Linked DNA regions of Homo sapiens: region 2 is linked to region 1. The links come from fine-mapping of genetic effects on gene expression. A gene starts in region 1. The other region holds a variant in brackets. All regions are shown on one strand. Distances are from middle to middle. Region 1 holds the start of ZNF2 (zinc finger protein 2). Region 2 has its middle 20 kb from the start of FAM95A.

Region 1 (4,268 bases):
CCCTGTTTTTCAGCTTTTGCCCCTCACACACCTGAAATGGCATGCTTGAAAACTACTTTTTTTTTTTTTTTTTGAGACGGAATTTCACTCTTGTCGCCCAGGCTGAAGAGCAATGGCATCATCTCGGCTCACTGCAACCTCCACCTCTCGGGCTCAAGTGATTCTCCCACCTCAGCCTCCCAAGTAGCTGGGATTACAGGCACCCGCCATCATGCCCTGCTAATTTTTGTATTTTTGTAGAGACGGGGTTTCACCATGTTGGCCAGGCTGGTCTTGAACTCCTGACGTCAAGTGATCTGCCCACCTCGGCTTCCCAAAGTGCTGGGATTACAGGCATGAGCTACCGCACCTGGCCTACCAATGCATTTCTGATCCTATTATCTCTATTTCTTTCTTTTTTTTTTTTTTTTTTTTTGAGACTGAGTCTCGCTCTGTCACCCAGGCTGGAGTGCAGTGGCGCAATCTTGGCTCACTGCAAGCTCCGCCTGCCGGGTTCATGCCATTCTCCTGCCTCAGCCTCCCGAGTAGCCGGGACTACAGGCGCCCGCCACCACGCCCGGCTAATTTTTTGTATTTTTTTAGTAGAGACGGGGTTTCACCGTGTTAGCCAGGATGGTCTCGATCTCCTGACCTCGTGATCCGCCCGCCTCAGACTCCCAAAGTGCTGGGACTTACAGGCGTGAGCCACTGTGCCCGGCCATATTATCTATTTCTCTGTAGCTTTTCACTGTTCGGACAAGCTTCTGCTTATTCAAGTGGTTACTGTAACTGCTATGATACTGCACTAGCTTTTCTTCCAACCACTAAAATTGCTGTCTTTCTGTGACTCTTTTTCCCCACTTTTGCCCTGGAAACATGGATGCTGCCCATAGCTCAGTCTTTGTACTTTCTTCGTTTTTGCCATCCCTCAGAAAGTCCATCCACATTCAGGGCTCCATTTTCAAACTCTACAGATGTCCATGTCCTGTAATTGTATTGTAATTTTACAATACAACTGTATTGCATTCTTCCAGACTCATCCTGCATTTCCAAATGACTGCAAACCTTAAATCAGGCGTTCCACCATCACCTCAAAACTATCTTCCTTTAGGCAATTCCACACATCAACGCCTCTTCCTGGCTTTACATTTGTATCAGATGTTTTATTGTTCTCCCAGGTGTCCCAAATTCAAACTCTTACCTCACTCTCTTTCCTCCCAAATCTAGTCACCAGGCCCTTTTGACTCTTCTTTTGCAGTGTCATCTGTATCCTTCCCTTTCACTACCACCACCATAATTCAAGTCCACAACATCTTACTCCAAAACTACCATACATTCCTAAGTAGCTCTCTGCTACTGGTCCTTTCCCCTCTCTAGTCCTGAATGTGACCTCTAGAATAACTGTCTCCAAATAGTTTCATTCGTGTCAGTCCCTGGATCACACCTATATAAGCCACCTTGCCTACTGAGTCTTGTCCTGATTCTCTGAGTCCCGGGCCCTGGCTCCCAGCGTACCTTTTCTTCAACCTTGTCTACCACTGTTCCTGCATTTCTGTAAAAACTATCTCCAGCTCAAATCTGCCTAACGCTTAGCTGCTTCTTTCGTGGTTTTTGTTTTGTTGTTGTTGTTTTTCTTTCACGTCAAATCCCACCTCCTCCATGAAGCCCTCCAGCACTCGTGCGGAGGCCCAGGGCAGGGAGCTAAATGAGGCAATCTGAGGCGCTGTCTGGCAAAGACGGAGCGGCAGCATCCTAGATTTGGTGTCAATTCCACCCACGTTCATTAAGCACCCATTATGGGAAGAAGAAACGGGAGAGGCGGAGGAAGACTCCAAACCTCCAACCTTAAAGTCCGGGACCGACATACAATGGGTGCCCAGACCCCACGGGACACACGCACACACGGGGGTGGATGCACAACTTTCCGTCCGCACCGAGACGTCGCGACACACGCTCTGCAGGCTGGCCTCGCCCGTGTCACCCCGTTTTGCTCCCACAGCACCTCCCCAAAGTTCTCATGTCCCCTCTCTCGGCTGCTGCGCTCACTCCGCTCCTTGAAGACACACACCCACAACCCTCACCTCCGGCACAGAGTGCTCGGGACCCGGGAAGACGGCGCCTCTTCAGGTCGGGAAACCAACGCGCCTGCGCACAGGGTCCTGGCGACTGCGCTCCCAATCAATGCGGGGCCTTCGCAAGGACTTCATCTCCCAGAAGTCTCGGCGTCCGGTGCGCTTTAATATGACGTCCGAAAATGTGTGCAAACGCCGGCTTCCCGTGGCTGAACAGGATCCAAAATGGCAGCGCTGTCGCCTTAGCTGGGAGAGCGAGCCGTTGTGGCTGTTTGGGAGACTTATGGTCACCCTGAAGTACTGCCTGCCTCTAGTGTCGCGTCCCTCCAGTATCCGATGGGAGCGCCGTCCGCAGGGAATGTGTCTCTCTGATCATGGTGCCTCGTGTCCAGCTCTGGGGAAGACCGAGACGAAATCGAGTCAGCTGGCGTTGGGAGAGGGCTTATTTCCGCTTCCGCTTGCCCACTTTCAGGAATTTGATTCTGAGAGCAGGGCTGCGGTTCCAGGCAGGGTTTGTACACATATTTGCGTTGGAAGGAGAGAGGAGCCTAGGACACATATGTATTAACTGTGCAGCTGGTCCGACTCCCGACAGCTTCAGCGCACACCAGCCAGCCTTGGAGTTGCTGGAACGGCCCTGGCTGCAAGCTGGAATCACCCGGAGAGCTTTCGACATTGATGCCTGAGGCCCAGCTGTGGAGCGACAGTTTGAAAAGAGCTGCAGGTGACTCTAATGTGCAGCTAAAGCTAGGAACCACTGAGCTACATCTCAGGGAAGACTGAAAATTACAAAGAATATGATAAAATCTTACTTCAGGAACAAAGCTACGTTTTTCCAGGTTAATTTATTAGTGGTTTGGGTTTTTTTTAAGTTTTTGTGGGTACACAGTAGGTGTGAACATTTATGGGCCACCTGAGATATTTTGACACAGGCATGCAATAAGTAATAATCTCATCAGGACAAATGGGATATCCATCACCTCAAGCATTTGTCCTTTGTGTTACAAACGATCCAGTTATATTCTTTTAGTTACTTTAAAATATACAATATTATTGGCTGTAATTACTCTGATGTGCTATCAAATACTAGTTATACTATTTCTTATTCTATTTTTTGTACCCATTAACTATCCCCACTTCCCCACCCCGCCAACCCTTCCCAGTCTGTTAACCATCCTTCTACTCTCCATCTCCATAAGACTACACTTTCATTCAAAAAATCCAAATTGCTCACCATAAGCAAGGCACAGTTACAAATATGAGTAAGTTACTGCCCCAAATGAACTCTTGGTCCAATGGAAAAAATCAGAATGTAAAATCACAATAGAGGCAGTATGTTCTATAATTATGTCACATTCAACATACTATGAGAGTACAATGGAGGAAGCTATTAACTATGGCCGGGAAAGGTGGGAAAGGATTCCTTTCACTGGTATACTTAAATACTTAAGAAAAAAAAAGTGTGATCTAAACAGTGAATAGTACATGCAAAGGCATAGTCTAGAGGATAAAAGTGAAAATAATTAGTAGCAAAATGAATGCCTTGTGGATGAGGTTTAGGGGCCAATAACTATCTTGAGGTAAGGCCAGGTTGTGGCTGCCTTTGTGTTGTACTAAGGGGTTTGGACCTTCCTAGGAGATTAGAGCTTGATTAAAGTCACAACATCCATAAGAGAAATACTTTTTTTTTTTTGTTCCCTTCTGTGTGGTGGTTTTTATTATTTAGCCTTATACTGAGGGTGGAAACTGGGGTCCTGAAAGTGTTTCCTTCTAGAATATTCCCCACCCACTGGCAGGCCCTAGGCTTTGTCTTTACCGCTTCCAGGTAGCTGCCAAAGTGGAAGTTTATGTGCTCTAGGATTTAGCAGTCTAAAAGTCAGGTTTGTTGCTCGATTCTCAGAATTCTAGCTCTCACTTTATTTATTTTTTGAGACAGGCTCTGGCTGTGTCAGCCAGGCCAGAATGCAGTGGCATGCTCTCAGCTCACTGCAACCTCCACCTCCTGGGCTCACGTAGTCCTCCCATCTCAGCCTCAAGAGTAGCTGGGACTACAGGCATGCACCACCATGTCTGGCTACTTTTTGTATTTTTTTGTAGACATGGGGTTTTACCATGTTGCCCAGGCTGGTTTCAAACTCGGGCTCAAGCAATCCACCCTCTTCGGCCTCCCAGAGTGCTAGGATTATAGGCATGAGCCACTGCACCTGGCCCATTTCA
Region 2 (4,517 bases), 380 kb after region 1:
GTGCCTTCAAGGGCCTTTCCCCTTTTCTTGGCAACCAGCACTCAGCTCCTTTTCATGCAAATAACTGAAGCCTTCATGAATTTTCTCCCTGAAAGTGGACTTTTCTTCTTTTACCACACTGCCAGGTTGTGATAAAGATAGCTGACAGTGTAGAAGCAGGTTCAGAAGTGGGTAAAAGACAGAGGTCAGGAGAATTGGGAAAGCTTGGAAGACAGCAAGATGAGGAAAATTTGACCACTGTAGAGGATTGTTAAATACTTGCGATCAGAAGGCTGACAGAAGGATAAACACTGAAGTCCAGACTTAAAAGGTCTCAGATGAAAATTAGGAATTTCCTGTGAACAGGAGCCAAGGTTACATTTGATTGGCCTTAGCAAAGAACGTGGCTGCACGGTGACCCTGCCCTGGAGATCTGTGAAACTATGAACTTGGGGGTGATGATTTAGGATGTATCTGGTGGAATGAATATCTAGGCAGCAAAGCACAAGAGGTGTCCTGCCTGCATTGCACAGCCTGTGTTCTTATGTGTGACCTAAGAAATGATTTCAAGTTGGAACTTCTATTTCAATGAGAAGTGGAGACCTAAAGTTTGCAAAATCTGCAGCCTGGCCAAGTCGTCAAAAAGAAAAGCTGATTTTCAGGGGGAAAATTCAAGACGGCTTAGGGTATCTGTATAAAAACAAGCCCAGTACAAATAGCCAAGACAATGGGAAAAAGGCCTTGAAGGCATTTCAGGTTCCTCTGCAGCAGCCCTTGCTGTCACAGGCCCTAGGGCCTGGCAGAGAAAAATGGTTTCCTGGGGAAGCTTCATGGCCTCATTGCTCTGTGCACCCTCAGGACACTGCTGGCTGCATTCCTGCAGCTCCACCTCCAGCCATGGCTCAAAGATGCACAGGTACAGCTTGGGTTACTGCTTCAGAGGTGGCTCCAAGCCTTGATGGTTTCCATATAATGATAAGCCAGCAGGTGCACAGAGTAAGAGACTAGAGGCTTGGGAGCCTCTGTCTAGACTCCAGAAGATGCACAGAAATGCCTGGATGTCCAGGAAAGAAGCTTTTCCAAGAGGCAGGGCCTCTTGGGAAACCTCTACTAGGGGAACAAAGAAGGGACATATAGGATTGAAGCCCCCACACAGGGAGGCATCATTCTCCAAACCCCAGATTCATAGACCCACAAACAGCTTGCACCCTCAGTATGGAAAAGCTACAGGCACTCAACACCAGCCCTGTCCATCAGGGCAGCTGCAGGGGCTGAACACTGCAAAGCCACAGGTGCAGATCTGCCCAAGGCCTTGGGAGCCCAGCCCTCACACCCCTGTGCCATGGATTTGGGACAGGGTTTCAAAAAGGATGATTCTGGAGCTGTAGGATTGAGTGACTGGCCTGCTGGGTTTTGGACATTTATGTATCCTATGAGTCCCATCTGTGTTTTGTGCTTCTTTCTAGCAATTTTTTTTTCTATTGGTTGAGAATGCTTACCCATTGCTTGTACAATCATTGTACTTTGGAAGTAGTTAAGTTGCTTTATAATTCAGAGACTCATGGCAGAAGGGACTGTAGACTTGTCTCAGATAAGACTTTGGGCTTTGGACATTTCAGTAAATGCTGGAGTGTGTTAAGATTTGGGGGACTGTAGGGAAGGCATCATTGTATTTTGCAATGTGAGAAAGACATGAGATTTGGGGGACCCGGGACAGAGTAATATGATTTGGCTCTGTGTCTCTCCCAAAACTCATGTGGAATTTTAATGGGGAATGTTAAAGGTGGGGGCTGGTGGAAGGTGATTTAATCATGGTGGAGAGTGGAGGTTGGATGGGAGGGATGGGGAGAGTTGGAGGGTATTGGGGGGGGTGGGAAGAGTTGGGAGGGATTGTGTTTGGTTGGGGTTATGGGTAAAAGGTGGGAGTGGGGGTGGATCCTTCACAAATGATTAAACACCATCTCCTTAATGCTGCCCTTCTGAGAGTGAGTTCTCTTCATGATTTTGGAGCTGTGAGATTGAATGAACACTGTCCTGCTGGGTTTTGG[G/C]TGTGCATTGGGCCTATGGTTCCACTTGTGTTATTTTTCTTGGAAATTTCTTCCCTTTGGATTGAGAAAACTTACCCAATACCTGTACCATCATTGTACCTCGAAATAAATGAATGCCATTTTAACTTCAGGGACTCATAGGCAGAAGAGACTGTAGCCTTGTCTCAGATGAGACTTAACTTTTCACATCTGAGTTAATGCGAGAATGAGTTAAGGCTTTTGGAAACTTTTGAAAAGGCATGATTGTATTTTACTGTGTGAGGAGTGCATGAGATTTGGGGGGATCAGGGTCAGCATAATATGATTTGGCTGTGTGCCTCTAGAAAAACACGTGGAATTATAATCCCAAATGTTGGAGGTGGGGCCTGGTGGGAGATTATTTAATCATGGATGGGAGGTGTGGGGGTGGGAGAAAAAAGGGTTGGGTAGGGTGGGGAACAGTAGGCCGGCTGTAGGGTGGTGGGAGGGTGGTGCGTAGTAGGAAGGGGGAGTAGCATGCTGCAGAGGCAGAGGCTGATGGAAAACCTCTACCAGGCCAGTGCACCTGTGGCTTTGCAGGCTTTAGCCCCCATGGCTGCCCTTATGGCCTGGGCTGGTATTGAGTGCCTATAGCTTTTCCATACTGAGGCTGCGAACTGTTGGTAGGTCTATGAATCTGGGGTCTAGAGGATGGTGGCCTCCTGCATAGCAACTCAAAGCCCTTGTTTTCCTTCTGCACTGCCATAGAACAGGATTTCCAAGAGGCTCTGTCTCTGCAGCAGGCTTCTGTCTGGAAACAATAGGGGGTGGAGGTGTGTTGTGGGGTGGCTCCTTCACCAATGGTTAAGCACCATCTTCTTGATGCTGACCTAGTGACAGTGAGTTCTCAGGAGATCTGGTTGTATAACAGGCTGTGATGCCTCTTTCCTCTCTCAGTCTTTCTCCTACTCATGCTGTATGAAACATTTCATTGCTGCTTTCCTTCTGGTATGATTGGGAGGTTTCCTGAGTCTTCCCAGAAGCAGAAGCCACCATGCTTTCTTTACAGCCTGCAGACCCATGAGCCAATGAATCCCCTTTTCATTATTACCACACAGAAAATAAGTACTGCAAAGTGGAGCTATGAAATATCTTCAAGGACTTTTCCCCATTGTCTTGGCTATCAGCACTGGGCTTCTTTTTAACGCAAATATCTGAAGCCTTCTTGAAGTTTCCCCTGGGGGAGAGTGGAGGGTATTAAGGGGGTGGGGAGAGTTGGGGGGGATTGTTTTTGGGTTTACGCGTGAAAGGCAGGAGTGCCAAACTGCAACAAAGATAGCTGAAAGTGTAAAGCAGTTTCAGAAGTGGGTAACAGCCAGAGGTTGGAGAGTTTGGAGAGCTTGAAAAAAGACAGGAAGATGAGGGAAAGTTTGGACCATTGTAGAGACTTGTTAAATAGTTTTGATTAAAATGCTGACAGAAGGAAGGACAGTGAAGGTCAGGCTTACAAGGTCTCAGATGAAAATGAGGAACTTACTGGGAACAGGAGCCAAGGTTACTTTTGTTTTGCTGTAGCAAAGAACGTGGCTGCAGGGCGATCTTGCCCTTAAGATCTGTGAAACTTTGAACTTGAGGGTGATAATTTAGTGCATATCTGGTGGAATGAACTTCTAGGCACCATAGCACAAGAGGGATCCTGTCTGCATCAAACAGCCTGTGCTCTTATGTGTGACTGAGGAAATGACCTCAAGTTGGAATTTCTATTTAAATGGCAAGCAGAGCTCAAAAGTTTGGAACATTTGCAGCCTGGCCAAGTGGTCAAAGAGAAAAGCTGATTTTCAGGGGGAAAATTCATGAAGCCTCCAGAAATTTGCATAAAATGGAGGCCAGTGCTAATAGCCAAGACAATGTGGGGAAAAGCCTTGGAGGCATTTCAGAGATGTTTGCAGCAGCCCTTGCTGTCACAAGCCCTGGGACTTAGGAGAGAAGAATGGTTTCCTGGGCCAGCCCCATGGCCCTGCTGCTGTGTGCAGCCTCAGGACACTGCTGCCTGCATCCCAGCAGCCCCAGCTCCTGCTCTGACCTTGGCTGAAAGATGTACAGGTACAGCTTGGGTCACTGCTTCAGAGGGTGCAAGCTATAGGCCTTGGTGACTTCTATATAGTGTTAAGCCAGTGGGTGCACGGAGCACTAGTCCAGAGACTTGGGAGCCTCCATATAGATTTCGGAAGATGTATGAAAATGCCTGGGTGTCCAGACAGAAGGCTGCCCAAGAGGCAGAGTCTCATGGGAAACCTCTACTAGGGCAGTGCAGAAAGAAAATATGAGGTTGGAGCCCCCACACTGGAGGCCACCATCGTGCAGATCCCAGATTCATAGACCCAACAAAAGTTTCATACCCTCCATGGGTTAAAAACTCCAGGCACTCAACACCAGCACAGCCCATGAGGGCAGCTGCGGGGGCTGAACACTGCAAAGCCACAGGTGCAGAGCTGCCCAAGGCCTTGGGAGCCCAGCCCTCACACCCTTGTG

What was found. PIP is the estimated chance that this variant, and not a neighbour inherited with it, causes the effect. A credible set is the group of variants that fine-mapping cannot tell apart.
Region 2: its variant is the best candidate, but not a certain one, in a credible set for the expression of ZNF2 in whole blood (TOPMed, PIP 0.52).

What each region holds. Positions count from the first base shown.
Region 1 is chr2:95,163,653-95,167,920 of GRCh38, reverse strand. It overlaps ZNF2 (zinc finger protein 2), which reads right to left and starts at 2,112. Exons shown (of 5, transcript NM_021088.4): 1 at 2,061-2,112. RefSeq lists enhancers at 1,996-2,425, 1,853-2,487, 2,488-3,124.
Region 2 is chr2:94,779,322-94,783,838 of GRCh38, reverse strand. It overlaps the pseudogene ANKRD20A8P. Among named protein-coding and RNA genes, the nearest start is that of FAM95A, 20 kb to the right of the region's middle. The variant G/C (reference allele first, on the strand shown) is at 2,028.